Homo sapiens: one gene and its partners. The protein of the gene in region 1 interacts with the protein of each later gene in a pairwise test. Each region holds a gene or a part of one and is shown on either strand. Other genes may lie near its edges.

Region 1 (8,279 bases):
CAACTTTTTGATTTTAGAATATAAAAGTCTTGATACAACTAATTTTGAAATAGCCTGGTGAGACTCACTCTATTCAATTAAAAAAATGTAAAATATCTTTTACAATATGAAAAAGAAAAAATATGGTGGAGGGAGAAAGAAGAAATAAATTTAAGAGTGGGAGAAAAAAAGTAGGAAGAATAGAGACAGACGTGGAAAATGAAGAAAAAGTAAATTTTGAGTGGAGTTAAAAGAAAACTGTTTAATCATAAGATACTGTGTGCATTATCACTGCCCTTTAGAAATAGTAATTTGAGGCCGGGCACGGTGGCTCATGCCTGTAATCCCAGCACTTTGGAGCCCGAGGCAGGTGGATCATGAGGTCAGGAGATCAAGACCATCCTGGTCAACACGGTGAAACCCCGTCTCTACTAAAAATACAAAAAATTAGCCGGGCGTGGTGGCGGGCGCCTGTAGTCCCAGCTACTTCGGAGGCTGAGGCAGGAGAATGGCGGGAACCTGGGAGGCGGAGCTTGCAGTGGGCCGAGATGGCGCCACTGTACTCCAGCCTGGGCGACAGAGCGAGACTCTGTCTCAAAGCTAAAATAAAATAAAATAAAAATTGGAATTTGCCACTGGGTGTGGTGGCTCACGCCTGTAATCCCAGCACTTTGGAAGGCCGAGGCGGGCGGATCACGAGGTCAGGAGTTCAAGACCAGCCTGGCCAACGTAGTGAAACCCCATCTCTACTAAAAATACAAAACTTAGCCGGACACGATGGCGCATGCCTGTAGTTCCAGCTACTCCGGAGGAGAGGCAGAAGAATTGCTTGAACCCAGGAAGCAGAGGTTGCAGTGAGCAGTGATTGCACCACTGCACTCCAGCTTGGGCAACAGAGTGAGACTTTGTCTCAAAAAAAAAAAATTGTAATTTGCCAATTCATCACTCCTCCTGGTTTTTCAGCTTTGATTTCATCCTTAATTTTTTTTTTCTGTTTATGAGACACAGTCTTGCTCTGTCTCCCAGGCTGGAGTGCAGTGGCGTGATCTCAGCTTAATGCAACCTCTGCCTCCCCGGTTCAAGTGATTATCCTGCCTCAGCATCCCGAGTAGCTGGGATTACAGACAGACACCACCACACCCAGCTAATTGTTGTATTTTTAGTAAAGACAGGGTTTCACGATGTTGCCAGGCTGGTCTCCAACTCCTGACCCCAAGTGATCCACCTGTCTCGGTCTCCCAAAGTGCTGGGATTACAGGTGTGAGCCACCATGCCCAGCCTTTACATTTTATTCTTTTTTTTTTTTTTTTTGAGAGGGAGTCTCACTCTGTTGTCCAGGCTGGAGTACAGTGGCACAATCTCGGCTCACTGCAACCTTCGCCTCCCAGTCTGAAGCGATTCTCCCTCCTGCCTTAGCCACCTGAGTAGCTGGGATTGGAGGCTCACGCCCCCATGCCCGGCTAATTTTTGTGTTTTTAGTTTTGTGTTTTTAGACAAGGTTTCACCATGTTGGCCAGGCTGGTCTTGAACTCCTGACCTCAGGTGATCTGCCCACCTTGGCCTCCCAAAGTGCTGGGATTACAGGCGTGAGTCATTGCGCCCGGGCTTAACTTTTTTTTTTTTTTTTTTTTTTTTTTTTTTTTGTGGTGGAGTCTCACTCTGTTGCCCAGGCTGGAGTGCAATGGCACAATCTCGGCTCACTGCAATATCCGTCTCCCAGGTTCAAGTGATTCTTTCGCCTCAGCTTCCTGAGTAGCTGGGATTACAGGCACCTGCCACCACTCCCGGCTAATTTTTTTGAATTTTTAGTAGACACGGGGTTTCACCATGCTGGCCAGGCTGGTCTCGAACTCCCGACCTCAGGTGATCCTCCCGCCTCGGCCTCCCAAAGTGTTGAGATTACAGGCGTGAGCCCCTGCGCCCAGCTGATTAACTTTTATTCTAACCTCTGAGAATGACAGAAGAGGAAAGACTTGTCTTTCAGAGTATGACAAAAACTGAAGAGGTTTTCATCTAGTTAAAAAAAAATGGGGAGAAAAAATTATCTCTAAAAAGTGAGTGGCATGAGCAAAAATGAGAAAGCAAAGACTGTAACTGAAGAACATAGTCTTTATAGACAAAGCTTAAAGCCCATATAGGGAACAGTGGAAAATACTATTGGAAGGCCTTGAGTAGCAGGCTAAGGACTTAGGCATTATTCAGTAGGTAGTGGTTGCTGTCAAAGGAAACACCAGTGTGGTATGGAGGAAAATTTTCTAGTCCTGATTTCAGAAGGCTGGAATTATTGTGCCAGTGTAATACTTGGCAGTCCTTACCCTAAACCTTGGTTTATTTCTAAAACAGGGGTAATCAGGCAGTTGTGAGGGTTAAATAAGATCATATGACAAGGTGTGTTTGCTTTGAAAATGTCAAAATGTTATAAAAATGTAAGTTTTCATTGTTGTGAGGACATAATTGATACTTAAAGACTACCGATATAGCAAAATTACTAAGGTGATGGCTGTAGGATTACAAGAGGGGCAATTTTTTTTCTTTTCTTTGTTTTTTTTGAGACGTAGTTTCACTGTTGCCCAGGCTAGCGTGCTATGGCAGGATCTCAGCTCACCGCAACCTCTGCCTCCCCAGTTCAAGCGATTCTCCTGCCTCAGCCTCCCAAGTAGCTGGGATTACAGGCATGTGCCACCATGCCCGGCTACTTTTGTATTTTTAGTAGAGACGGGGTTTCTCCATGTTGGTCAGGCTGGTCTCGAACTCCCGACCTCAGGTGATCCGCCCACCTCGGCCTCCCAAAGTGCTGGAATTACAGGCGTGAGCAACCGCGCCCGGCCAAAGGGGGGCAGTTATTATTATTATTATTATTATTTGAAATGGAGTCTCGCTCTGTCGCCCAGGCTGGAGGGCAGTGGTGCTGTCTCGGCTCACTGCAACCTCTCCCTCCCGGGTTCAAGCTATTCTCCTGCCTCTGCCTTCCGAGTAGCTGGGATTACAGGCGCACGCCACCATGCCAGGCTAATTTCTGTATTTCTTTTTTTCTTTTTTCTTTTTTTTTTTTTAAGTAGAGACGGGGTTTCACCATGTGGTCAGGGTGGTCTTGAACTCCTGACCTCAGGTAATCCGCCTGCCTCGGCCTCCCAAAGTGCTGGGATTACAGGCGTGAGCCGCGCCCGGCCAGCTGCTGCTGTTTTAGACAATGGTTGATGAAGGATTCGAAGGCCTAAACAATAGAGCTTTTGTTCTGTTTTGTTTTTGAGTGGTCCTGAACAGTTCTTTTGGGCAGGGGAATTTGTCTGTGTGTGAATGTGCAAACATATATATAATCTGAGTGGCTGCCTGGCCTTGTCCTAGGTTTTGTCCCGTATATACGCCGTCTTTTTTTTTTTTTCTTTCTGCATGTATGTATATTTTCTCAAGGCATCTGTCCTGCACTAGACTTTGGCTTGTCTTTCCAGGCCAGCTTCCAGAGGATGCTTTGGCAGTTTTCCCTCTGGGTAACCAAGCAGGCTGCAGCCAGCAGATGGCACTGCAGCAGAAAGGGGCAGAGTCCCTTTAGGCCCTTGACAAGCACGGCGGATTAGTAACCGTATAATTTAACCCTCCAGTTAGCCTTGGAGGACTCGGTGTCGCACTTCCGCCCGAACTCTAATAAAGCGGGCCGAGTTGTGTGCAATTAAGGATTTCAGTATGCAAATCTGAATCTGTACTTTTGTCTCCTCCACCCCACCCCCATCATTAGACTGGCAATGTCTTTTGTCACGTTGTCAAAGTGTCCTCAGAGAAGCGGTGTCTAGATATCGCCGATTTCTGGTTAAAGTGGCTGAAGTGATCCCAGCATTAATTAAATGCAGGAGAATCGAGATTCTCCTGATAGTTTAAGGAAAAGAAAAATTCACACAAGCAAACGGGCAACCCTTTGAATGTTTTCCGACGACGTGGTGCTTTAGGATCTGAAAGATGCGACTTGGTTTTTGTTGTTGTTGTTGTTGTTGTTGTTGTTTTTGAGACGGAGTTTCCGCTCTTGTTGCCCAGGCTGGAGTGCAATGGCGCGATCTCGGCTCACCGCAACCTCCGCCTCCCAGGTTCAAGCGATTCTCCTGCCTCGGCCTCCCGAGTAGCTGGGATTACATTACAGGCATGAGCCACCATGCCCGGCTAATTTTGTATTTGTAGTAGAGACGGGGTTTCTCCATGTTGGTCAGGCTGGTCTCGAACTACGATCTCAGGTGATCCGCCTGCCTCGGCCTCCTAAAGTGCTTAGATTACAGGCATGAGCCACCGCGCCCGGCTAATTTTGTATGTTTAGTAGAGACGGGGTTTCTCCTTGTTGGTCAGGCTGGTCTCGAACTCCGACCTCAGGTGATCCGCCTGGCTCGGCCTCCCAAAGTGCTGGGATTACAGGCGTGAACCACCGCGCCCGGCCGCGACTTGTTTTTGTTACAAGGTTCCTCATTTCATTTGCAACGTTCAGACGCAGTCTGACTAGATTTCCATCCGGAGTAAGGAAGAGCAGCTCAAGGGCAGTCACGGAGGCCGCAGGTGCGGCTTCTTCACCCGCGGTGCTGGAGTTCTCTCAAGTGGAAGCCCAGGACGATGAAAACCTCATAGGTAGGCTGCTGCTTACACACAGCAGCCGCCACGGCGCAAAATAAACTACAAAACTACAAGCCTTTACCTTTTCAAACACACTGACGCGGGCCAGCCCCAGCCCTACGCCCGCAGGGGCACGCAGAAAAGACTTAGTTACCACGGCCAAGTACGAAGCCTTCGAGATAGCGTTCTTCTTACCCTACGTAAACACGCAGTTTCCCGAGCTCGACAATCGGCTAGCCACTCCTGATAGCGTTCGGCGCTCGCCTCTCGGCCCTTGCTCCTGCGTACTACGGCTTCTTCCAGTCACCTCGGCCCGGATCGGGAAGTGTCAAGCGGGCGCTCCCCCATCTCCGCCGCTATTACCACTGAACCCGGACCCCCTACCCAGGTCCAGGGCCAGCCGCCATGACGAACGGTGAGAACTGATGCCCTGAGCGGAGGGTGGGAGTGAAGGACGAAGGGAAAACGTGGCGGGCGGGGCCGGGACTGACGTGGCCGTTCTCCCCGCCCCCTCCCAGCCCGGCCCCCCTTGGCCTCTCGACGCCCCTAACTTCTGTACCCCTATACTCCTCTACGGGTTCCCCCTTCCCATATTCATCTAGGACCCCCAGTGCCTCTTATGCTCACACCTCGAGTTATCTATCCCTATGCTTTGCTTTCCCTTTTCTTTTTCTTAGTTCTTTCTGGCCCTTGGAGAGGTCAGTCCCAGAGGTACTACTGCTATTTAAACCCGGGGAAGAGAGAGGCTCCTCCTCCCAGCTCCCTGCGTTCTCATGCTTTCGGACCGTAGTTTTGTTGAGAGGGCCAATAAATGACATAGAATATCAAGTCCCACACTTTTGGGGTTGCTGGTGAATGTAGACCCCACAAAAGCTTCTTCTTACGGAAAAATACCGGAAAGATTTCTGATTTTAAAGTCCTGGCGGGGTGATCCCACGTGGAGACCCTGACTAGTGTTGCAAAGGGTGGATTTAGACACTGCCTCTTCTAGATGATGAGGCAGTTTATCTGACCTAATTTTCCAGGCCTCTTCAAACACTTTATGAATTCTGAATTCCAGAGGAGGACAGGAAGGAGGGCCTTCATGATTTTTAGTGTCAACCTTACAGGAAAGGAGAAGAGAAAGCCTTTTAGGCATTACGATGATTTGAGGGGCTCCGGAAAGCATTTCTCAAAAGTACTTTGTCCATAGACCTGGCACTGAAGACTCGAATTTAACCTCCTTGTGAATTTTGGCATTGTCTGCAGAAACTTATGAGAGAAAAGGGGTAGCACGTGAAGGTATAGTTCCTCAGAAAACCTTAGTGTATGTATTAATTTGCTGGACCCTTTCTTAGTGACAGCTTAGCTGTGAGACAGTTTTACTGGAGGAAGAGAGGTAGTGTGATCTAGAACTGGCAGACACTGGTTATATATAATATTCATTTGGAGCTTCCTGGGAAGTCAGAGGTCTCAGGATACTAGGCACAGTAAGAAAAGGGAATTTACCCAGAGGAAGACAGAATCTGAACCAGGAAGTAAGACAGCAGTTTGACACGGTAGTTGCTGAATAAATTTTAGTCATTCTTCCCCCATTTTGTGGTCCAATATCTTCTTGTTTTTTGCAATTAGGTGATTCATTGTGCTTCCCTGTACAAGAAATAAGCTTGGTTTATGTATTTAAGAAACAGAGCTAAGAAGTTAAAGCTTTCTATGTTGAAGCCTTAGATACTTTTTCTTTGTTTTAGAAAAATCTGTTATTATTCTGGCAGAAATTCGGTTTGTTAAGAGTATCATCCATAAAGTGTAAGATAATGATAGGAAAATTGTAGTCATGTGGATTCTTACTCTTGCAACTTTCATTAAGCTTAATTTTTTGCCTTAACATATTCTTCACCAACAGTTGCACATCTGACAGTTTTGGCTACATATCTAGCTCTCCTTTATCATATGAGTGATTTATAACAAGAACATGTTAAATTCTCTGTGCTGAGTCTCTAAGGATTCATATGTCTCAATCTATTGCCAACACTAGTCATTCCTGGGATGCTAATTTCTGCCCAGGATTTCTACTTCTTGAAAGGTGAGGGGAAGGACCAGTGACATTTTAGTAAAGGGGATGTAAAAAAAAAAATTTTTTTTTGAGTTGGGGTCTCACTCTGTTGCTCAGGCTACAGTGCAGTGGCATGATCGTAGTTCATTGCAGCCTCGAACTCCTGGGCTCAATTGATCCCCCTTCCTCCTACAAGCAATTTTTGGGAACAGTAAAATAATCGTGTTAGTCCCAGGATCCTGGCTCCCCCTTGTCAAGTGTCAGTACTGCCTGTTGAGGTTATTATTTTGTTATTATGTCACACACTATCTTCCTTAGAGTTCTCAGGCGGGATCACAGGTCCGACGCTAGATCAGTACCTAAGGTTTTCTTTTCTTCTTTATTTAACAGTGTACTCCTTGGATGGGATTCTGGTGTTTGGTTTGCTCTTTGTTTGCACCTGTGCCTACTTCAAGAAAGTACCTCGTCTCAAAACCTGGCTGCTATCAGAGAAGAAGGGTGTTTGGGGTGTGTTTTACAAAGGTGAGGCCATGTCTGGACAGGGAGAAGAGACTGCCATCTCTGGACAGTGTGGAGCTACAAAGTAGGGAGTACAGTGAGCTGGGATTATATTTGGTTTCATTTTTAGAAAAAAATCCCTCCGATTGGGTCTGAGAGTCTGGAAAATTAATCATTCTCCAAAGTTGAGGGAAGAGGTAAAAGTTAAAATTTGCTGGGTGTGATGGCTCATGCCTATAATCTCAGCACTTTGGGGGGCCAAGGCAGGAGGATTGCTTGTGTCCAGGAGTTGTAGATCAGCCCGGGCAACACAGTGAGACCCCATTTCTACAAAATATACAAAAATTAGCCAGGTATGGTGGCACGTGCCTGTAGTCCCAGTTACTCAGGAGACTGAGGTGGGAGGATTGCTTGAGCCTAGGAGGTTGAGGCTGCAGTGAGCCATGGTGGAGCCACTGCACTCCAGCCCAGGTGACAGGGTGAGACCCTGTCTCAAAAAAAAAAAAAATTATTTAAAAACATAATTGTCTATTTTAGCATCCAGATGATTTTTGTATTCTCCATGGAGTAAAAGTATACACATCAAATCATTTTAGGCTGGGGTGGAATTCCTCCCTTCAGTGGGAAAAAAATTTTTCTACGGAAAATTTTTCTTGATTTTCTGTAAATGGTACATTGGAGTCTGTTTTAAGGTTTGAGTTAATTAACTCAGATGCTTTTTTGTACTTTTTATTTGAGGCACATTCATTTGGAATCCTATCTACCTAAATTTTTTTTTGAAAAAGGACAAAATATAAACAAACAGTATATTCACCTAGACCCTAAAGCATAAGGATAGCATTTAGAAACATCTCAGAGGCCGGATGCGGTGGCTCATGCCTGTAATCCCAACACTTTGGGAGGCCGAGGAGGGCAGATCACCCAAGGTCAGGAGTTCGAGACCAGCCTGGCCAACATGGTGAAACCCTGTCTCTACTAAAAATACAAAAATTAGCCAGGGAGCCGGGCACGGTGGCTCACGCCTGTAATTCCAGCACTTTAGGAGGCCAAGGTGGGTGGATCACCTGAGGTCAAGAGTTCAAGACCAGCCTGGCCAAGATGGTGAAACCCCATCTCTACTAAAAATACAAAAATTAGCTGGGCATGGTGGCAGGCGCCTGTAATCTCAGCTACTCAAGAGGCT
Region 2 (7,837 bases), about 11 Mb from region 1:
ATATTCCTGGCCTCTACCCTCTAGATGCCAGTAGTACCACTACCCTTCCCCACTTTGTTTGTTTGTATGACGACAAAAATATTTCTAGACATTGCTAAATGTCTCATGGGGGCAAAATCACCCCAATTGAGACCCAGTGGTTTTTATTAAGTTTTTGTCGACTCAGACAAAAACTTAATAACCACTGTACTTTAGTGCCTAACCACTGTACTTTACTGCCTTGTTCTAAGGCCTTTTAATGATGTCTTACCTCTTAGGAGTCCAGGAATAACTTTTTAATAAACAGATATCTCAACCAAACAGTTTTATATTTAATCACCTTAATTGTCCAGGCCAGATAATTCAATGTATTTTCATTTTTGTATGTTTTTGTTTTCTTATCAGTGTACTTTCAGTATTTACACTGATAATAGATATCATATTTTAGGTATTTACTAGGTGCCTGTACAAGCTGCCATATTACCGAAGATGGACAGTTATTCAGATAATACAATAGAGAGTAAAATTTACAAAATAATGTAGACAGAGTATTTTATACAGGGTGTTTCCTCTGTGTTTAACTGAAAATTTAGACTTAGGGCAGGAAGAGAGATGAGCTTTTCTTCTCAAATGTGGACTCCCTAACTGATACCCTGTTTATCTTTTTTCCTCATTCCTTTTATGGCATGTTTCTCCTTTTAGGATTTTTGCAATTTCTTTATCTACCTTTCTGTTCTGCCTCAAAATTATTGTATTTTCTTTCATTTTCCTCTGGCATCGTGAAGGGCAGTCCAGACTTGAAGAAAGTGTTAGATCTCACCAAATAGGCAGCAGGAAGCTCCAAGAAAGCAGATAGATAACATGTTATACAGTTAAATTGTCTCACGCTCCCAATCACTGAGGGTTGATTAATCCACTTACTGTAACTGCTTTTAGAGGAAAGTGGTTGGTTCTTGGTGCTGCTGGTCTTTGACCAGCTGAGTTCAGTGGGTATTGATACCCACTGAACTCAGCTATGAAAATGATAAAGAGCTATGAAGGCAAAAGTTGTTATTGATACAACTAGTTGTTCAGCAGTCTTAGGTGACAGCAACGAAAAGTATTGTGGTTGTGTGTCTAGTTACTACCTTCTATCTTTTGTAATATATAGATCCAAATCCTACATTTGCTGTTGGATAACCTCAAATTTGTTTCACAGTTTTTCCAGTTATTCTGATCCACTGCATTATTGGATTACTAATAGATATCTCATAATTATATCATATACAAATTTCATTAATCTTTTCTAGATGAAGTAGAAAACACAATGAGGATATCTAAATATTTTTAGGTGGACTGGCTAACTGTGGGCCCTTTGTGACTTTGATCTTGAAAGCAAACTAAAGGTCAGTATGTAAAACAGTGGTTAGGTTGTTTTGTGAGATCTAGATCAGAGCTGCCCCATGGTTTCTTGAGCATTTCCAATGAGTTAGAATTACATAGTAAGACTTCACCTAAAAGGTGGATCTACTATTGAAACAATTTCAATTATAGAGTTAGGGTAGCATAATGCTTAGGAGTAGGGGCTCCAGGGCCAGATTGCCTGCATTCAGATCCTAGTTCCTCCCTTTTTAGCTTAGAGGCTAAAAAGTTTGACTTCTCAAGTAAAAAATTGACATAATAATTCTAATCACCTCATGAAGAATAAACGAGTTAAATAATGTAAAGTGTTCAGAACAGTGGCTGGCAGAAAGTGAACACTTAATAATTTCATTTGATCATTTCTGAAGAATCTTTTCTAATTCCATCTTGCCTTTCTTTTTTTTTTTTTTGAGATGGAGTCTCACTCTGTTGCCCAGGCTAGAGTGCAGTGGTGTGATCTCAGCTTACTGCAACCTCCGGTCCCCAGGTTCAAACGATTCTCCTGCTTCAGCCTCCCGAGTAGCTGGGATTACAGGCACCTGCAACCCTACCCGGCTAATTTTTGTATTTTTAGTTGAGATGGGGTTTCAGCATCTTGGCCAGTCTGATCTTGAACTCCTGACCTCATGATCCACCTGCCTTGGCCTCGCAAAGTACTGGGATTACAGGCGTGAACCCCCATACCCAGCCTCATCTTGCCTTTCTTAAAGGTTCACAGATCAGAATTGCACATAATCGATACACTGGATGCAAATATGTAATGAATGAATGATTTTTCACATTACAAAATTAATTTGTGCATATTGTAGAAAGTTCAGTAAATACATAAAAGCAAAATGACCAAAATGTTAACAGTGTTTATTAACTATAATCTGTACTCAAATTATATCCATTTTGGTGGATGACCTTAAACATATGTATGTGTGTATAACATTAAATAATAGGTAATACCGTAAGACTGTTTCACCTAATTTTTTCCACTTAACAGTGTTTAATGAATATTTTCTCATATCATTAAACTCTATACAGCATTGTTTTAATGGCTGCATAGTATTCCATTGTATGAATATGCCAGAAAGATTATTATTTAACCATGAAGATTGTGCTAGCATTGTGTTCTCGAGGATGGTAATGCTAACTGAACCAGCATGGTAAGGTGTTGGTTGGCATACCATAATCCCTATAAATACATCCCCAGTGTTGTATATTGGCAGTCTTTACATTGCTGTTTGCAAATTCCTGAAATTGCAGAATGCTTTTGGCCAGTTTCTTATAGTTGATACAGTTGTTAGTCTTTTTCTCAGGTTACAGTAATGTTTACAGTGCCTCTTGTAAAGTCAAAGGATTTGTACCAATCTGAGTGGCAATTTTTTCCATGTTTCTTCAACTAGTCCTTTTAAGATTCTCACCTGCCTTTAGCAAAGAACATATATTTAACACCTGTGGTTGCAGTTATGTAAAAAATACCGATATCACAGCCCCACCTCCGAGATGCTGACTTAATTGGTTTGGTGGTGGAGACTGGGCATAAGTAGTTTTGTTTTTGAGATTTCCCCAAATGATTCTATTGTGAAGCCAAGGTTGAAAATCACCGATCTATGTTGATATTATTTCTTGGCACTTGAGCCAAGAAATAATAAAAATATTTCTTTTTTTTATTAAAGAATTTTAAATTAAATTAAATTTAATAAATTAATTTTATTAAATTAAAGAAATTTGCATGCTTTTTATCTACTCTTGTGGGTTCAGATCTCTTCAGAATGGCACTGGGGAAACAAAAAGATTGGTAAGTACCATTCAAATTTAGGAAAATAGAATATTGTGCACTAGTTCTTATTGGCTAAAAGCATATGACAGTATTCACTCTTACTGGCTGGCCATATATTAGTAGTACTGTTTAATATGATAATTTTGATATAATTATTATAAAGTACTGTTTAATATATAAAACTGTACATACATACAGACATACATATGTTAATATAGAACTATTTCTCAAATATATAACAAATATATGTCAATAAAACAAATAATTGCCATAACAGTGGTATTAAACAAGATAAATCTACAAACTAATACCTCAACTGGACTCTGCCTATCTCCCCTGGTTCACCTCATGCTTATTCACCTTCTTATTCTTATTGAAATTTCCAGTTCACCATTTTTACATATAGCTTAGAATCTTATTATCCTGTAATTGTACATTTGCTGATCTGCCACTTTATCATTTTATTGTTGCTTCCTTGTTTTTATTATCAGCTTAGCAGTACACTATCTACAATTTTAAGATATCACTTTGTACTTTATCAAAGTTAGACCTCAGATCCTGGGAGACCCTAGCATAAATACTTTTCTACTTAAATATTTAGTTATTAAACATCTGCCAAAGGGAGGCTATTCTTTCTATGTAAAATAAATAATTCCAAAATAGGATTATTTCTTTGCATCACATGGCAGTGTCCTAGTCTGGTTTACTATACAAAATACCATAAATTGGGTGGCTTATAAATGACAGAAATTGATTTTTCTAGTTCTGCAAGGTGAAGATCAAGCACCAGCAGATTTGGTGACTATTGAGGGCCTATTCCTGGTTCATAGATGTCACCTTCTGGCTGTTTCCTCACATGGTGGATGGAGCAAGCTAGCCCTCTGGGGTCTCTTTTATAAAGGTACTAATCACATTCATGAGGGCTCTACCCTCATGACTTAATCACCTCCCAAAGGTCCCACTTCTTAATACCATCACTTTGGGGGGTTAGGATTTCAACATGAATTTTGTGGGGGATACCAGCAAACATTCAGACTATAGCTGGGTAGCTGGCAGAAAGCTCCCCTACCCCACATGTGGATGGAAAAACAATGTCTATTTGCTTCCCATTCTTCAGGCACTTCCTTTCCCTGTTGGATCTAGTAGATTGGAGATGCATGGTTTTCTTCTTTTGAAATGACACTGCTGGTTTTTCCAGTAGATTTGCCCCCTCTTTTTAACAAAAATAATTGTAAAAGCAGTTAGAAATTGTTCAGGAAAATATTACCTGTAATTATAACATGTGAATGCTATTATTTTCATTTTTGTCTGCATATATCCCTCGATATTCAAACTTTTGCTGTCCAAACTTGGGAACCAAATAGATTTCTTCAGTAAAGGGTATCTGACATCCTAATCTTTGTCTCTACCCTTGGTCATTTTTATGTAATTGCAGTCAAAGTGTTCGTAATAATTTGCAGTCACTAGTACACACATTTAGTTTTGTTTAAATGCTAAAAACTGTAACACTTGTGGAAGGTTCTGCTGGATATTCCAACATAAAAATGAAATTCACCAATCTTGTTCCTAGGATATTCCCCTGAGTATAGCACATGCTGTGTAGTTCTGTGCCAATAACTGCAAATGAAATGGGTTAGGAGGAGAGTACTGTCCTAATAGTGGAAAGAACACTGGATTGAAAGTTAAGAGTGCTTAAGTGTATTTGAGGTATATGCTTTTGCTTCTTAGCAAATAACTAATGCGATCATCTTGAAGAAGTAGGGGTTAGGTCTTCCTCTGTACTCTGAAAGTAGGTTGTCTTTCCTCCGTTAAAATGAATCTTACTTACCTGTAAATGAAGGACCTCATTCAGAGTGTCCTCATAATATGATGCTTCTCACTAATTGATACAGCATTTTGTGGAAAATTCTTAAATGAAGATGTCTTCTTTCAGTCTGGCCGGGACCTTCAACAATATCAGAGTCAGGCTAAGCAACTCTTTCGAAAGTTGAATGAACAGTCCCCTACCAGATGTACCTTGGAAGCAGGAGCCATGACTTTTCAGTGAGTGTAATCTTGATTTCTTTATGATCATTTAAGTGAAATACAGTAACAGAATGCCTGATAAAAAATAATAATTTTTAAAAAGTAAAGATTACTTAAAAATGTTGTCTTTTGGGAGGAGCAACTTCTCTGGCTCTAATTCTACAAAATGGACATCTTGTTGGTTTTTTCAGCATGCTTACAGTAATTTAACCTGTTAACATGTGTCTATGCTGTGCCCATCATGCAATAATAGATAACTTCTTGCTTTAGGACTGTCTTGGAGCCAGATATGTGTAGGTTAGTACCCTTGCTCAAACATTTCCTAACAGTGTAACTTTGAACAGCTCACATAACTTCTCTAAGCCTCAGTTTCCTCTATAAAGTAGTGAAAATAAACATAGGAGGTTTGAGAGGATTGTGAGGGAATCTGTGTGTATTACTTAGCATCTTGTCTGACACACATGGGAAGAGTCAATAATTATTAGTTATTATTATTTTGAAAAAAGAAAATTATAAAAGATAAGAGCATCTTAATCAGTGGTTATAAATGATACAGCTGATAGAGGACTCAAAGGAACATTATTGGATTTTAAATTATCTACAAATAATTGGTATTTAATGTTTAATACATGCCAAGTTTGAAGCTGACAAAATAGGAAGGATTAAAAAGGAAAAGAGTACAAGAGCATCAGAGGAAAATAAAAACGGATTAGTTAAATAATCTTTGCCATTTTAGGGACTTAGATAGTAAGATAACTTAGGCCAGGGAGGAAGCTGCTATGTTTACTTTTAAAAAACAAAACAAAAATTCTCTACCTATAAAAGACAAGTAAAAAGTACATCAAAACAAAAATAAAACCCTAGGCAATTGGCTAAGAAAATGTTGGACATTATGTTTTATGATGTATTAATTTTTATAATATCTGAAATATTTTCTAGAACTCTAATTTTCAACACCAAAAATAGTCACTCACTTAATATCTAGTATCCTCATTTTCACCATGGTTTAGAGAACCAAGACCTAGGAAAGTTCTCATGGAATTGAGAAGAGATTTTCTTCTGCCTGATTCCTTTAGGACATTCATAATCTCATATCATCCTTTATTTCCATCCAAGAGCTATTAAGGGTTTATTCTTTGCCAGACCTTATATTGAGTCCTGCATTTAATGTCCATACCTTTTAACACTGTTCTCTTAGTAGAGAGAGAGACATATACTCAAACAAGTATACTATAATATCTTAATTGAAAAGATGTTGTAAATTAGATTTAAATGAAATGTTTTGGGAACAGAGAGAAGGAAGGAACAAATTCCCATTTGTAGGGGGTAAGTTTGAAGAAACGGGACAGAGGAGGGGAGTATATATAAAGAAGTTTCACAGAAAAAATTATGGTAGAATTGAACATATGAAAATGAACAGGATTTCTCCAGGTATTTAAAAGAGCATTAACGGTTAGAAAAAACAATATAAGCAGAAGTCCACAAATATGTAAAGAACCTAGCATGTTGGAGAACAGTCCGCCATTTGGTTTATTAAAATATATGATAGAATGTTGCTTACACTTGTTTTGAAAGGCTGTAAATATAATACCATGGAGTATGATTTTATTTTGTAGGTATTAGGGAACCCTTAGAGTTTGTAAGCAGGGTAATATGGTCATCTGTAGTCTCTGGGAATAAAACTGATGGTATAGAAGATGGTGTAGACTAAAAGCAAAGAGACCAGTTAACTCAGGTGCCCAAGCAAGGAATAAGACAGCTGTATTATTAATATTATTTTAAGGGGCCTGAGAGATCATATAATAGTCTTTATCCTTTATGGAGCCCTAGGATGCCTCAGGAGCCACATAGAAAGGGCAAGGATGGGAGTATATATAATGCTTTGGGCCCCTAAACTCCTCCTTATGTTTTAAATTTTTCCCTTTTATTTTCAGTTGACATGTAATAATTATACATATTTATGGGATACAGAGTGATATTTCAATACATGTATACAATGTGTAATCAAATCAGAGTAATTAGCATATTCATCACCTCAAACATTTATCATTTCTTTGTGTTGTGAACATTCAAAATCTTGTAGCTTTTTGAAAATACGTGGTAAGTTATAGCTAGCCATATTCACCCTACAGTTCTGCAGAACACCAGAACTCATTCTTCCTATCCAGTTGTAATTTTTTATCCATTAACTTGCCTCTGCCCATCCTCCCCTTCTCTCTACCTTTCCCTACTTCTAATACCCACAATTCTACTCTCTACTTCCATGAGCTCAAAAATTTTTTTTGGCTCCTACATATGAATGAGAACATGCCATATTTATCTTTCTGTGCATGACTGATTTTATTTAACTTAATGTCCTCCAGATTTATCCATGTTGCTGCTAATGATAGAAATTCATTCTTTTTTATGGCTGAATAGTATTCCATGGTGTGTGTGTGTGTGTGTGTGTGTGTGTGTGTGTAAAAAACACTTTTAAAATCCATTATTCTCTTGATGGACATTTCTCTTGATTATCTATCCATAGATATTATGAATGGTGCTGCCGTAAACATGGGGGTACAGATAAGTTTTTAACATAATGAGTTTTTTTCCTTTGGAGAAATACCCAGCAGTGGGATTGCTAGATTGTATGGTAGTTCTGTTTTTAGTTTTTTGAGAAACCTC
Region 3 (7,837 bases), on another chromosome or scaffold:
TATCATGTTTCCCTAGCTGGGCCTCCCTGTTTATACCTCATATGTGTAGACAAAGGACAGAAGAGGGCGGTGCCTGTGCATGTCTCTCCTGGGTGACTGAAGGGAGTCTCATCCCCAAAGGAAGACAAAAAAGAGCTCTCCCCTTGGCCAGGAAACTTGGCCCTGGCCCCTCATTTCTCCATTATCCATGTACCAAGATCCCCTGTATCTCTCTTAGTTAGACAAAGCAATGTATTTTTATTTAAGGCTTCTATAGAAGATCAGAGTAAAATAGTTAGGCTTCTTCAACCTAGAATGATGTGACAGGGTAGACCTGATCCAAGTTTGTAAGTTATAAACAGTTAAATTAGAATTGTTTCTCGAAATTCTTGGTGATTAGGAAGTCACTTTATAGCATGCATTGAATTAAAGCTTGGACTGTAACAATTAAGCAGATTTTATTTCGTGTACATTACCTCTGGCTGTGCAGAAAGTTCTCTTAGAAGATGACCATTCCATACAAACCGCTGATCTGCCTGAGAGAAGTTTTAAAATTTAATAAAATATCTCCTGCCAAGCTTACTTTCTACAGAAAGAAAACTACACCAATCAATGTCTCTTTCTGATGGCTAGAAGCCAGTTTCTTTGACAGGCCTCAAACAAAATACATCTCCCCCGCAAATCTGTACCTCCTGTGGGCATTTCTGTCTCATTGTCTCAGGCCAGACAGAAACCTGGGAGGAGTTTTACGGTATTTCTTTCCCTTACATTTAATTGTCAAGTACTAAATCTCCTTCAAAATCCATATTTTTTACATTTCTACTCCCACTATCTTTACCAACATCTGACTCCAGCCTAACTAACACACCTTCCCTTGCCTCCAGTTTAGGCATTAGCCCTCGCCACTCATTTTTCCACAATGCTACCAGCAGGAGTTCTCTAACATGTCCTGTCTCCTATCTGCTCAAAATTCTTCAATGACTCTGTCATCTAAAGAACCAAATCTCTGCATGGCCTAATCAGTCCTAGGATCTGGCAGCCCCTAATTAACTCTCTGATCTCATCTCTGGCCACTCCAACTTTCATAAATACAGAAGAGGCTCCCTCAACAATCTATATTTAATCAACTCTACTTAGGGCCAGACGTGGTGGCTCATGCCTATAATCCCAGCACTTTGAGAGGCCAAGGCAGGCGGATCACTTGAGACTTAGGAGTTCGAGACCAGCCTGGCCGACATGTCTCTACTAAAGATGCAAAAATTAGTCAGACGTGGTAGCACGTGTCTGTAGTCCCAGTTACTTGGGGAGGCTAAGGCACAAGAATCACTGGAACCTGGGAGGTGGAGGCTGCAATGAGCCAAGATCGTGCCACTGCACTCCAGGATAGGTGACAGAGCAAGACTCTGTCTCAAAAAAGAAAAAACAAACAAAATAACTGACTCTACTCAGTAGATTAATCAATTCTATTTATGAAGCATACCAACTGAACCACCAGCACCGCCGACTCTAAAAGTCACAGGGAATGGCTTTTGCACTTGACCACAACCAGCTGAATCGCACTTCCTGAGATTCAAGTGTGTGTTCCTGAATTTGTACCAGTCATACTTATTATTATTTCATCATTATATAGTTTAACTATTTTATAAACCAATGAAATAAGATGAAAAACACACTGCTGTTTCTATAAAGTTAAATGATTTGGAATGTAACTTGATAAGAGGCAAGTTGCTAAAACAAAACTGCTGTTGAATTTGGAGTGGGAGTGGCAACTAAAAAAATATAAAAGAACATAGTAAAAATGTACAGGATTCTGCACACAGATTTCTCTGTAAGTGTCAAAGTCTTTAAAGTGGCCCAAATGGGAAAGCCCTATGGATGTAATTTACACAGGGAAGACAATTCAGAATCAAGGAACCAAAAACAAAGAAAATCCTATGGCCGTACATAAAAACATTGACCAATGTAAAACTTTTAGGTTTTAAGTTAAAATATTTAGGGTATATATGTTCCATTTATCACTTTTATGATTCCCTATGTTAACATTAACTTTTTTTTTTTAGACCGTCTTGCTGTTGCCTTGGCTGGAGTGCAGTGGCGTGATGACAGCACACTGTGGCTTCTATCTCAAGTGAACCTCCCACCTCAGCCTCCCGAGTAGCTGGGATTGCAGGTGCGTGCCGCCACACCTGATTAATTTTTAAATTTTTTTGTAGAGCTGTGGTCTCCCTATGTTGCCCAGGCTGGTCCTGAACTCATGGACTCAAGCAATCCTTCTGCCTCGGCCACCTAAAGTGTTGGGATTACAGGCATGAACCACTACACTTGGCTAACTTTCTGTTTAGCTGACAAAACATTCCCATCTCATCCCAACAGATGAGATGGCTTTTTCTGCAGCTTAGCCTCTGCCACCACCTCTGCCTGGAACCCCCCGGCCCACTGTCACCTGACCAACAAATCTTCATCAAGTCTCAGCTCAAAAGTTACCTTTCTGTGTAAAGTTACTGTCCTCTGTAGATACCTTACTTTATAAAGTTGTCCCTGACAACCTCAGGCAAAGACCCTCATTCCTTCAGGATCCCACCTCACTTTGGTACATATCACCATTATAGCAACCATTCTTTGACTACCACTTCCCCAGCAGACTGTAGGCTCCCACAAGACAGGGTCCACAGCTTCATTCTGGGTCCCCAGGGGCTAGTATAGTTCCTGGTACATGGCTGACGTTGTAGAGATGTTTCATAAACAAATGGAGAATGTAGCAACTGCTTTTAAAAGCAAGTCTCTTTGTAGTTAAAAGCCAAGTTTCTTGAATGCTTAGCCTGCACCTAAACTTCCATCTAAGCCTACATACAATTTTACCAAATTAGAGTTGAAAATCTCACCCAAAAAAGCCAGTCAACTAAAATATTAATTTAGGTTGAACCACATGAAATAACCATTTTTATTGGTCAAAAATGGTCAATTACTGGCGACTTCACATTGTCCAACCTAATAAGTAAGATGGAGCGACCTTTTAAATTCTGTCTTCTCATTAAACACTTCTAAGGTGTGTCAAAAAAAAATTCAGGTAGCAATCATCCAGGTTCCTGAACAAAAGAAACTTTAAGTTGAGATCATATGAAACCTAATTTTAAAGATATATTCACTGTATATTAAAAAAAAAAAAAAAAAAGGCAGACTGGGCAGGCACAGTGGCTCACGCCTGTAATCCCAGCACTTTGGGAGGATGAGGTGGGTGGATCACTTGAGGCCAGGAGTTCAAGGCCAGCCTGGGCAACATGGCGAAACCCCATCTCTACTAAAAACTAGCCAAGCGTGTTAGCACACGCCTGTAATTGCAGCTACCTACAAGGCTGAGACATGAGAATTGCTTGAACCCAGGAGGCAGAGGTTGCAGTGAGCTGAGATCGCACCACTGCACTACAGCCTAGGTGACAGAGTGAGACTCTGTCTCAAAGAAAAAAAAAAAAAGCAAAATAAAAAAAACCTTAAAAGGATATTTTCCAAGTTCTAGTGACTTTTGTTACATTTTTAGTTATAAAAATTATAAATAAGCATCACTACAGAAGAAATATCAACTGTTAGAATATGAATTTTATAAGCCTAATTACACTGCTAATGTAACTGCTACACTACCGAACACTGAGAGTTAAGAAATTACAAATGAATGCAATGCTAGTTTGAAGATTTGACATCTGAGAGTTAGCACTTGGTAGCCTGGTAATACTTATGCAGAAATACAAATTCTGAAAGATTTTCCTCTAATAACTTACATGTGTGTTTATACAAAGATTTCTGAATATCTACACCAGTGATTCTCAATTCTGGCTGTATATATACACAGATTCAAGGACTCACACACTGGGATTGTGATGTATATTTAAAACAGGGTATATTTTCAAAGCCTCATACATGATTCTAAGATAGCCAGGACTGAGAAAAATCAATATAAATTTTTATGCATGAAACAGAGACATGTCCCTTTTAAAAACCTAAAAATAAAAATAATTGAAGATCAAGCTTACCCTTTCCAAGAGACTCATTTCTTGGAATTCAGGACTAGTGTTGGATAGCCGCTGCAAAGTATGGGTCAAATCATATGTTGTTGAAAAGTAAAATCCATCCACATTCAAGACATGGTTTAGCATCGCTAGGAAGGTTTTATTATCTTGTAACTATAAACAAAGAAAAATCAGTATAGCTCATAATTGAAAAGGAATCTGCCAGCATGAGAAAAGAATACAAATTAAATCCTGTTAAGTCCAGTCTCATTAAAGACTACTGGCACAAGGACTGAGCCAGTGAGGGGGATGCTCGCCATTTCCCTGGGATGTAGGACAGTTCCTGACACACAGAAGATACTCAATAAACACTGTAGGGTACTATTAGGTAACTTGATTAGGTAGGACTCCTCCCCTTTGTATCCTTTACAAATTTTATTCTCAAAGGCAGAAGAGTAGTTTTAACAAAACATCACCTTCGGTTATGACCTACTGTGTGCCAGGTATTTTCCAAAGATTCCCTTTAATCTTCACAACAGCCCTGCTAAGTTAGCATAGCTATCTTCGACAAATAAAACACATAAATTTACGACGGGCCCAATAATGCAAACAGCAAATAACAAGATACTAACATCATCCACATTCTCAAGAAACGTTCCCTGGTTTGGGATGGACGAGAAGTAAAATGGAATTCTTTTTCTTTAAAACAAAGATTAAAAAGTCCAGTAAAAGCAATATTTATCTTTATTTTTGGGAAACCATTTTAACTAGCTTTCCCAATGAATACTAAGATTGACATTTGTTTTTATCCTTGTTTTAAAAAACAATTGTTAATGTTTGGTAACGTTTAATCATTACTAAATGATTAACTTGTTAATCTACATGTTACAAATCTACATATACAAAATTTTTTATTTGTGCTCAGACATGTTTTTAAAATTAGCTACACAGCTTGACAACAAAGAATAACAATCGAGAAGAAATTGTCTAAGTAAATATGACTGGTCTATTAAATAAATACAGCTGTTTTTATTTCTTTAAAATATGCCTAGTAGAGAATGAAGATATTGATATATATTTCTTGATATATATAATAAAAAAGAAATTCTAAAGTATAAAAAGCATATCCTGTAGTTTTACTCAGGTAGGCAGTGCTATAATTTTATTTTTTAAAATGTTTATCCTAAGTTATATGTTTTAGAATAATATATTTTCTTCTAGAAACATTCTTATAAATTGGGTGTAAAAATACAACTTAAAATTTTTAAATAGCAAACATGTAACTAAAATTACATTAAGAAAACAATCACTCTCAACAGGTATATATATCTCTAAACAATGTTGACTTTAAAAAGTAAGTTTCAAAGAATCAGAACAGGGCAATGCCATTCATGTAAGTTTCATACACACTCCGAGCAAAAACAGATCCTGTTTAAATATGAATACAGGCAGTCTTTACTTTGTAAAGTGGGAATGTAAAAATTACCATGTTATTTTCATCTTAATAATCTTAAGCTATCTTAACAGTCAATTGTAAAAACTATGACTGTTTCATGACCTTTAAAAATTTTTTTTGTCAAAACATTAAAAACTCTATTGTAAGTTATAGATATTAGTTATAGATATTAACTTATATAGTTACGTTGTAGATGTAACTTGTAAGTTATATATAGTAAATTATAAGCATAAATGAACAAATTGTAAAACTAATATTTAGCACACTATAATTTAAAACATTAGAAACACCGAGAATAAAAAATATTTTCTTTGTAAAAAAATTTATCAAGAGACTTGAACAGTGCTTGCCGCCTTCTTGTCATATAGATTAAGATACAGAATATTTCTTCTATCCCTGGTGAACTGTCATACACCTTCCTAAGTCTAAACCAACTTCTGACATTTTATCCTTTGCACTTTCAATGTTGGGAAATATCTCCAAGGTTTCCTTTAATGGGAAGTCTGTTGCAGGCATCACTTTCTCTGGGATACTGTCATCCCTTTCGTCACAGCCACTCCATCATTAATGTCGGTCAGTTCGCCTGCACCAGGACCTCTGGCTGCATACCTACTGTCCCTTGAATGGTGAATAGTGTCAGCATTCCCATGGTCAGCTACTTCTTCTATGCTCCATTTATGTTCAATTTCAATTTCTCTTCCAGAGTTGTTGCTTTTTGTTTTTTTGCACCTTCATCTTTGGTGGGTTAATTCTTCAGTTAATAAACTGGAGTAACTGAAATTTAAGCCATGCTGTTTGGGTACTGGTGTTAACTAAACTATGGTTACTGAAATCTGTGCATACAGGAATAGTGCAAAAGGAAAACTGCCTGAAAGAATATATACACATTTCATAAACACACACACACACTTACATTCACATGTGGTAAAAATAGAGAAAACCTCTCTGGGAAAGAAGGGAATGAGTTAAGAGGAGTAGAACTTCAAAGGTATTTATATTTTATTTCTTTACAAAGAGGATATGAAGTTAAATCTGGTGTTGAGTACCCGTGCATTTCTGTTTTCCCTTCTCTCCATATGAAATTGCATAATTTAAGAACTGAATCTTTAAAAAAAAAAAAACAAGAGCAACAAATGATTTAAAAAATATTTTTTATGCCTAGGTAGAAAAGTAGGTAGAGTGATCTTACTCTATAGGTTGTTAAAATAATTATAGCATTCTTTGTATTCCACAACACCCTCACCCTCCTCTCCCCAGCCCATGCTACTTCTTTGGGCGCTGCAATTAGTAACAATTTCCAGTTCTTACCTGAATATCAGTTAAGTGCAACATTGTCTTCTTATAAGAAAGGACATCAAAATCTGTTGCTTTCCAGACTACATGACTGAAAAATTCACCTACTTTTATCTTTTTGGTAATGACTATAAGATAATTACCTGCAAAAAGCAAGCCAAACACACATAATTATAAAAATAGTAACTCTAAAGGTAGAAATAGGAGTCCTTATTGTTTAACTTTAAAGGCTAGTAGAATGAGACTATATTGTGCCACTCAGATAAAAGGCCCATTTTTAAAGCAACCTTACAATTTATGAATAGAAAGGTCAGCATATTATTTAGAAAAATTCTTACTGAAAGGTCATGTTTTTCTCAAAAAAGATAAAAGCAAAAGCTTTTCATAACCAAAGGATTTGTCTTAGTAAATGGAAAGTAGAGACAGAAAATACTTCTCTTTCTCTCTTTCATCACCCCCAAGGGATACAGACCTCTGCTAATCATTTCCCAGCAGGCAGCTTAAAGCATCAGGACGTGAGATCTGACACTACAGGGCAATGTCCCTTCCACACCACTCCTATGTCCTTCATGTCTCTCTCTAAATGGTAGAGAAATGTGCTGGGGCAGTATACCTAACTGGCTGCTGCAATATTACAAGGATGAGTGGTCAGGAATCAAGGAGTCATCACAACATCATGCACAATACACCAATCCTGACCTTGCCACCTCCTCACCCCAGAAATACATAAAACAGAGTAACCCTTTCCTACTCAATTAATTCTTCAGGTCTGTTCAACATTCTACCCACAAGTTCCCCCTCTGAAAGTTTTGCCATGTACATGTCTCTCCTGGAACTTGTCACACTGTACTGCAGTAATTTACTACTTACACGCCTCTCTCACTAGACTGTGAACTGCAGGGCAAAATGGACTTTCAGCCTTTATAACTCAGCATCTAGCATGATGCCTGAAAAAATAGGAACTTCAAACAAGCTCAATCAAATTAAATCTAAACAAAAATCACCTTCTTAACAACTCAGAACCAAGTAACATTTGCTAATATGCACTATGTCCTATTACTACAGGGCTGAAGGTGTAGAATACCCTGTTCCACTGATGCATTGAAAA
Region 4 (7,837 bases), on another chromosome or scaffold:
AGGCACTTCACTTTCATCTCCCGAGAAAACAACAGAACATCATGCAAAATTCTGGGTGCTCTGACTTCAGGATATATTTTAAAAAATAAATGGCATCTGGACGCAGGACTTTGAGCCAGGCCTTCCCAGCTTCTCAGGAGCTGGGCTAAGCACCAGCATGGACCTGTCACCCTCACTGATGCCATTAGGGAAGGAGGCAGCCCCGGAGCAGAGAGCATGTCACCAAGGTTGCCAGGGCCATTCCCAGGAGCATGTGGACACCCAGACTCTTCAGCTTAGCTTATTTTTAGAAGACACGAAACGAGAACTCGGAATATCTTTTGGTTCTAACAAGAGTTTTTGTTTTGCTTTTTAATAAAGAAGAGAAAGGGGTTCCTTGGTTTTCTCCACAGATGAATGTTTTTACAAAAAAAGAGTAGTTTTGGATGTATACATGCCACTTAGGAAAACCTTTTGTCCTTGATCGCTTTTAAAACCCTTTTTTGGACATCATCAGGTCATTTTGCGTATTTTTGTGGACTGGCTGATTTCCCCTGTGTTTTTGCCAGGTGACCGCTCTCCTTTTCAATTTCCCCTCCCAGAAAGCAACTCGTAGGGAAGGGAGGGCCTTGAAAAGTGCCATCGGCAGGATGGCCTCCAAGGAAACAGAGCCCGTGGGAGTGGGCTCTGAAGGTGGGTGGCCCCATGGGACAGGAGTGCCTGGTGGCCCTGGTTTCCCCTTGGAGACATCTATGCAGACTGGAAACGAAGAAACAGAAGGAGGCACGGAGTCGCTTTCTCTTATATTGTGGATATTTTATCCCTGTCTTTCACAGCAGCAATTTTAATAAACAGATGCCTGCAGCATTTCACCACTACACAAGAGCTACTCGCGCTCGGGCAGGCGCACACCTGCCTGTGTACACAGGTCCTCGCACAGCACGGCAAACGCAGCCAGGCCTTTGGGACACAGGCCTCTGAAGTGTAAGTTAGCAGCCCTCACCCCGACAAGCTTCTAAAGACCAAAAATACCTCTATCCTCCACTACATAAAGCTTGTGAGTAGCAAAACTTGTAAAAATGAAGTGTACAAAAGGAAACATCCGTATAATACATTTGCACCCTGTATACAATGGGTCCCTTTGAAACTGGCCAACAGTCAGCGATGGCAGATTTTCAATCATAGAAAAAGAAGCCAGTGGCTGTCATGCGCACTCAGGTCAATGGTTTGTGTGGGTTCTCCAGAGAGAGAGATTTTCCTTTACAGTTACAGTACTTGCTGGCGATCTTGCTGATTAAAAGGCCAGTTGAATTTCCTGGCATTTAGGCAAGTAACATTTGATTGTCACAACGTACAATTCTGAGACAATAAATACAAGTAGATCAGATGCATTTCTTCATTGTATCAAGTAACTCCAGTTTAATGTAATACAATTTAGTGCATTTCAGTATCTCATTCACAGTTCGACTTCTGTCCAAATACTTGTGCAACAAAAAGTTAAGAAATGGAGACGAACTCCAGGTGACATTGTCATTACACAGCTTCAAATTCTAAGACAACTCAATGATCTTTGAAAAGCGTACGCTGCTGTTGCCTGGGCCGGCGACACCAATGTCCCTGGTAACTTCCTGGGCTCCCTAAAAGTGTTCCCGTCATTCTATTTCCCGAGCAGTTTGTAAGAATGCCACCATTATCCCTGAATTAACAAGCAGCCAGTGGCGAGTGTTCATGATAAAACTGAATTCATGTGTCCACCCCACTCCAGCAGATCAGTGTGACATCTTTTACGCAAAAATTGTTTTTGCATCCTGGCCCCGATAGGCAGGAATACGGAGCCGGATGTCTGCATCCCCCAGGTCGGCCCCACGGCAGGGGTATGGGGCAGAGCCAGGGCGGAGTCAGGGGTGTGGCCGGCCCCATCCCCCGAGGCCCGAGGGGGCTTGCCTTTGGTTTGGGGACTAGCTCAGTAGAGAAAGGGGCAGGCACACGGCCGGGGACGTGCTGTTTCCAGAAAGAAGGCAGGCAGGCTTTTCGGGCTGGCCGTTTGAACCCTGAGCCTAGGTGCAGTGCAAGGGCTAGAAGCACATCGCGCCGTGGAGCACTAGTATTGCACGCCAGGGGCTGCATGCAGTGAGCCACAGGCCAGAGGCCTGCAGCGGGAGTCTACGCATGGGGCTGAACAAGTCAGGTGAAAATCTGCAGGGCTGGAGAGATTATACTTGGCTTGTTGTAGAAGTGTCTCAGGTAGAGACAAAGCATGCAGAAACTTACTCATTCTTCACCCCAAATCTGACCCCAACCGGTAGTCACAACAGGCATGGACAGCCTGGCAACAGCTACTCAATTGCACGTGAGTGAAACACACAGCTGGGTCCAACCACGGCTTTTCCTTCAAATCAACATCAATGCTCAGCAATACCGCAACGAACAGCGTGAGGAAAGATTCTCATGCCACGGTGCGCGAAAGGGAGTCGGGACAGGCAAGGCAGAGAGACTCAAAATTCATCGACAGGACGTGCTTTTTTTTTTTTTTTACACAAGAAAGTGCTGCTTACATTGTTGTTTTGTGTTATTTAGTGATTTGTTCAGCGCTCATCTCTTCCACCAGACTGCGCTTCCTGAGGACAGGGACCTTAAAGCACCTCACATAGGGTGCGCGTCTGGTACACTGTCGCCGAGTACCAGACAACCAGTGTCTCACACGGGGGAAGACGATGAAGACAGCAATGGCATCCTTGGGAAGATGGGCAGGAGACCCCATGACACCTGGCACCTGGGCCTAAGCTGGGAGGCCAGCGGCGTCCCCAGGAGACCACGGCCCAGGCTGGGAGCTTGACCGGCCAGACGCCCGTGGGTGGGCCTGGGCCCTCCCGCCTGGGAGCCTCCAGTGTGGCGCCTGGCTCTGGGTGGGTAACAGGAGCTACAGGCCAGCAATGCCCTTCCTGTCCTCGGCCTGGCTCAAGGACTGGGTGCAGAGGGCATCAGCGATGCCAGGCCTAGAATGTGCCTCACCCCGACAGTGGCCAGCACGGACTGTGGGCTACAGAGTTGCTTCAGCCTGAGCACTCAGCCTGAATTTGGACATAACATCAACTGAATTAAGCTCAGAAGTAGGGTGTAAAGGAAAAAGAAAAAAAAAAGACTGTTCTGGGATTTATGAATTTAATTTAAAAAATGTAAAGGAGCTCTCCTCCCCTTTTCCTTCTGGATGAAAAGCAAAATCCACCCTCCCCCCCCCAAAAAAAAAAAATTCAAACATTCATGGTGTAGTTTTTATTGCTCTTAAAGACTTGGTGTTGAGAAGCACAAGCTAAGCTGTGAGATGGGAAGGAAACCAGATGAGGTGTGACCCCTGCGCCTGGGCCTCCGTCTCCACTCTAACCTAGGGGCTGCCCAGCTCCGCCATGGCTCAGTGCAGAATTTATACATTATATATTAATTTCAAAGGGAGGGAACTTCTATGGGAAACAATAATAATTAAATCATAAAAGATCTAAATTTGCATTTTCCAGGTCACATATGTGCATGGTCGTACCCTTCAGCTTTTTTCCTTAAAGATTTTGCAGGTGTTAGTGAGTCAGTGAATGGCATGGATCTAAACACACATGGAGACGGATGAGCAGCGTGCGGCATGAGGAAGGTGCAGGAGAATCTCTGGGGTGCTCAGCCAGGGGAGCGCATGCCCTGCCCACGGCACAGCTGCCCGAGTGGGCGGGTGGAGGGATGAGATTTCAGATGGAGGGAAGCACATTTCCAAAACAACAGTGTCTGCAAGCGTGTCTCGCATGGTGTCGTTGGTCTCATCTGGTTTCGTTGGTCTGCCCCTTCACCCCTGCGAGGAGCCGTGCTCTGAGCAGGTGTGCACAGGTGGCGTCCCGCACACGCCCTGAGAGCACGGCCCCCACAGACCCGGGGCCCGGCAGCGCCTCCATCATGCAGAACGCTGCCGTCCCCTCCAATCTCCCCAGGACACTTAGGCCCGATGCCTAATTATGTTCTCGGTTTACTTTTCTTCATGCCTCTTTTCTCCATTTGTTTTCCCCTAGAAAACTCAACCTACCTCTATTCAGAACGCTGGTTTCAAGATATCAGAGATAACACCCATTTTGGTTTTTTTACCTTGCTAAAAAGATGAGGGCGCTGTGACTTAGAACAAGCAAGTCGAAAGCCAAATGCAGGTGGGCTGATGGTACCGCAACCAAGTTGAGCGTTCTACCACTGCCATTGCCCCAGGGGCCCCACCTGGCCATGCCGGGGGAGTGGACATGCTGTAGGGAGAAGCATCCCTCGCTCGGCGTGGGCCAGGGGCTCGCTGCAAGGCCAAGGGAGCCAGCATGACCGGCCGAGCGCTGCCCTCTGCTCTGCCTGGACTCTCAGAGACGTCCAGGAGGTAGGGAGCTGGGCGCTCAGGGGTGGCCGGGCCACAGTGACACCGGCCAGGATGGGGGCGGGCCTTCCCCAAGGACACAGTGCGAGGCTGGGGGGTGGGGGGTGCCCCACCTCTAGTTTCCAGCAGGAAGTTGAAAACCACCAAGAGATCAACCAGTAAAAATAAAATCTCTAGAAGTCAATGAGCTCAGTGTTAACAGTCTCCAACCACCTTTAAAAAACAGAGGGTTGACGGTGCCGTCGCTTCTTCTGAAGCATCCTAGAGTCCCACAGGCTGCCCTGTTCTCCCTCCTTGGCTCCTGATCTGTGGGATGGGGGGGCGCGCGGTAGCCCCGAGGGTCCTCCCTCCCCAGCACCCAGTGTGGAGGGACCAGGATCTGACAGCCATGAGAGCGACAAAGGAGCTTTAGGTGCATGGAGAACTCTGCATTTCACTGAGTTCTCAGGGGCCCATCCACTTTAAAAACAGATGTACGTATTTACACACAAGGTCAGATAGGAGCTAGGACAGACAGGGCTCTAGAAAGTGAGGTGGGGCGTTCGCCCTCAGCCAGCCCCAGGACAGGGCAGAGTGAGGGCTCCGACTTCGAGGAATGGACCTGACGTTCGTGCCGGTGTGCTTATCACTACGGGCGCCCTCCACGGGGCCCCCACTGGGAGCCAAGGTGCTGAGCCGAGCGATGCTCCCGGGGGACGGGACCCGGCCGTCCACTCCCAGGAGGACAGCAGAAATTCATTACGAGACAGTTTCGGGGGCGGGGGGTGCAGAAGAGGTGAGGGGCCAGGTTAAGTTCCCAAGATAACTGATTAAAAACCAAAAAATTTGATCTAAGTTTAAGGAGAGAAAGCAGCCAAAGGCTCCCTCTTGGAAGCGGAGTTCTGGAGAGACGGCGTCCGCGGGAGGCCTCTCCGGCCGGACCCACCTCCCACGGGCGCGCGTGGAGATGCTGGGACCCTGCGCTGTGGGAGGCTGAAGACTTCACCTGACAGGCCTTCTGAATTCTTTACTCTTGGCTCAAGTTTTGTTAATATTAGTCACCAGTTAATAAGAAAAATAGTTTCTAATTGTCTTTTCCTGCACTCTGTGTGTTGGTTTTGAGTTAACTGGATACCACCGTCAGGGCCGCGTGTGTTCAGTCACAGCCATTAATTATTCCTTTTTCTTAAACTCTTGGTTTCCGTAGCTGGAGCCTTTTTCTATCTCAGTTACTCCTATCAGTCTGCGAACTCCAAAGGAAGCTTTCAAGACAGGAGAGAGAGAGAAGAGGTGAGACGGATGACTTTGCCTTTTTGCTGTAAAACGTGTTACTGGGGCTTCCTTCCTCTGCCCCAGACCCTGTCCCTCTGCCCCGCACCCAGTGGCCTCTGCTGTCAGTGAGTAGGTGTGGCCCGCGGGGAGACAGCCCTCTCAGACCGTGGTCTGCTCAGGCAGGGGTGAGGGGCACGTCTTCTGACCGGCTGGGTCCGAGGCAGGTGGACACGTGGACCTTGCCCTGCCTGCCCCTCTGGGTCTTTGGCTGGTGGGAGCAGAAGGGCTTCGGGGCATTCTAACAGCTCGGCCTTGCAAACCCAACAGGTGACAGAGGTGGACGAGCAGGACCCTCGGATGTAAGCAGGTCACATCCTGTCCTCTGTGGGTGGCCTCAAGTCATCTCGTAGTCCAATGGGAGAGGCTGGTGGCAGTCACTGCCTCTCAGGACCCCTCCCACCAAGGCCCCTGGCAGGGGCGGCAGGAGCAGGGGAGGAGCTGGCCCAGCTGCTGGGCCTGGGGAGTCGGCTCACGGGGCGATGCACACGGACTGTGTCTCCACGGACAGAGACCCCTCAATTACGGGGTGTGGGTGGGCGCCGGAGCTCACCACAGGGACAGGCTGGGTGTCTGTTCGGCCCCAGGCTAGCTGATGAGTCGTGGTGGGCCTGGCATTGTGCCTGGGGTGGGCACACAGTGGGGAAGTCACTGGGGGTCAATGGGGAGGAGCTGAATGATGATGTCCTGCTTAAACCTCCCGAATGGCCAGCCCAGCCTGACCCCTAAGAGCCCAAAAGCAGACAGGGGGGCTGGGGACCCTCTCGGGGACCCTCTCGTCGGCATCCTCAAGGGCGCCAGCCAGTGGGGCTGCAGTGGGGATGGCGCCAGGTGGCGGCCGTTCGGCTCTCTGGGGAGGCGACCCTCAGCTCAGTGCAAGAATCCAGGCTCTGAGGCCCGCAGGCCGTGGGGGGATCCTGGCTCCAGGGTCCATAACAGCCAGGCCCCTGCCTCCCACAGCCACTGTGATGAGTCACCAGGTCCCGGACCCTGTGGCTGATACTGTGAGGCCCGTCAGAGTGTGAGCTGTTAGCGACAGTGTCCATTACCTGCTCCCACAAACCCCAAGAAAGTCAGGATCAGGAGAGGTGATCCGCTGGCAAAGACGCCCAAGACAAAACTGAAGAGGGGAGACAGGAGAATGGTGGCCCAGGACAGGAAGTTCAGGAGGGTCCACGGCCTCCGGGCAGGCTTAAACTGCTCCCCTGGAAACATGCCCTTCTGATTATATATCTCCTGGAGCGCGTCCTAGAAGAGTCAACAGAGAAAAAGGAAGCGTGAGGCTTCTTTACAAGCTATTATTTCAATGCAGGAGAAGATTGTTGGCAATGAAAAACGACTCAACCTAAAAAAAGCGCCACGTCAATTAAGAGCACAAATCACAGAAGCTGCAGGTGCAGGCGAAGCTGGCTGTACGTTTTTGGAGAATCTGATAGCGTGCATCGAGAGCTCGCAAGCATATCAACCCTTTGACTGAGGAAGTCTCCCAGGAAAATAATCGGTCAAGAAAGCAACGTTGTGAATACCAACACCTGCCTGCCCAGCACTGCCCCGGCCACCCGCCACATCCCACACCTCCCACGAGCCAGAGGCAGTGGGGGTGGCAGGTGTGGCCTGTGTGAGTCCCGCGGCCTGGATGCAAATCCCTGCAAAGCGCACTCTCAGCTGCACGGCCCAAGGAAAGTTCCTTAACCTCGCATACCTCGGTTTCCTAGCCTGGCAAAGGAGGCTAATGAGGAGCTGGGAGGAGAGAGGAGCCTGGCCAGGGCCACCTGCAGAAGGTTCTGCCTCTGGTGGGAATGTCAAAGGCACAGGCTGGCAGGAAATCACCATGCCTGATAGAGCAGACACTCCGCAGCCACTGCCCGTGGGCGGGGCAGCCCGTGGGACTCTAGGATGCTTGGGAAGTAGTGAAGGGCACCATCAACTCTCTCGTTTTTTTTTGTTTTTTTTTTTTTTTTGAGATGGAGTCTCACTCTGTCGCCCAGGCTGGAGTGCAGTGGTACGATCTCGGCTCACTGCAACCTCTGTCTCCCGGGTTTAAGCGATTCTCCTGCCTCAGCCTCCTGAGTAGCTGGGATTACAGGTGCCCACTACTGCGCTAATTTTTGTATTTTTAGTGGAGACAGGGTTTCACCATGTTGGCCAGGCTTGTCTCGAACT

Evidence for each region.
Region 2: the proteins of TMEM167B (region 1) and SEC22B interact in binary tests that used the Homo sapiens proteins (3 or more experiments, as listed by UniProt).
Region 3: the proteins of TMEM167B (region 1) and SACM1L interact in binary tests that used the Homo sapiens proteins (3 or more experiments, as listed by UniProt).
Region 4: the proteins of TMEM167B (region 1) and AGPAT3 interact in binary tests that used the Homo sapiens proteins (3 or more experiments, as listed by UniProt).

Annotation. Positions count from the first base shown.
Region 1 is NC_000001.11:109,085,902-109,094,180, forward strand, and holds the start of TMEM167B (protein kish-B isoform 1 precursor), read left to right. Parts: upstream 1-4,862; 5' UTR 4,863-4,971; coding exon 4,972-4,981; intron 4,982-5,758; exon of another isoform or gene 5,759-5,847; intron 5,848-6,988; coding exon 6,989-7,120; coding exon of another isoform or gene 7,121-7,181; intron 7,182-8,279. UniProt on the Homo sapiens protein: Involved in the early part of the secretory pathway.
Region 2 is NC_000001.11:120,166,194-120,174,030, reverse strand, and holds part of SEC22B (vesicle-trafficking protein SEC22b), read left to right. Parts: intron 1-5,081; coding exon 5,082-5,191; intron 5,192-7,837. UniProt on the Homo sapiens protein: SNARE involved in targeting and fusion of ER-derived transport vesicles with the Golgi complex as well as Golgi-derived retrograde transport vesicles with the ER.
Region 3 is NC_000003.12:45,705,815-45,713,651, reverse strand, and holds part of SACM1L (phosphatidylinositol-3-phosphatase SAC1), read right to left. Parts: intron 6,873-7,837; coding exon 6,745-6,872; intron 4,155-6,744; coding exon 4,005-4,154; intron 516-4,004; coding exon 456-515; intron 1-455.
Region 4 is NC_000021.9:43,980,074-43,987,910, reverse strand, and holds the end of AGPAT3 (1-acyl-sn-glycerol-3-phosphate acyltransferase gamma), read right to left. Parts: intron 6,923-7,837; coding exon 6,724-6,922; intron 5,608-6,723; coding exon 5,519-5,607; 3' UTR 319-5,518; downstream 1-318. UniProt on the Homo sapiens protein: Converts 1-acyl-sn-glycerol-3-phosphate (lysophosphatidic acid or LPA) into 1,2-diacyl-sn-glycerol-3-phosphate (phosphatidic acid or PA) by incorporating an acyl moiety at the sn-2 position of the glycerol backbone.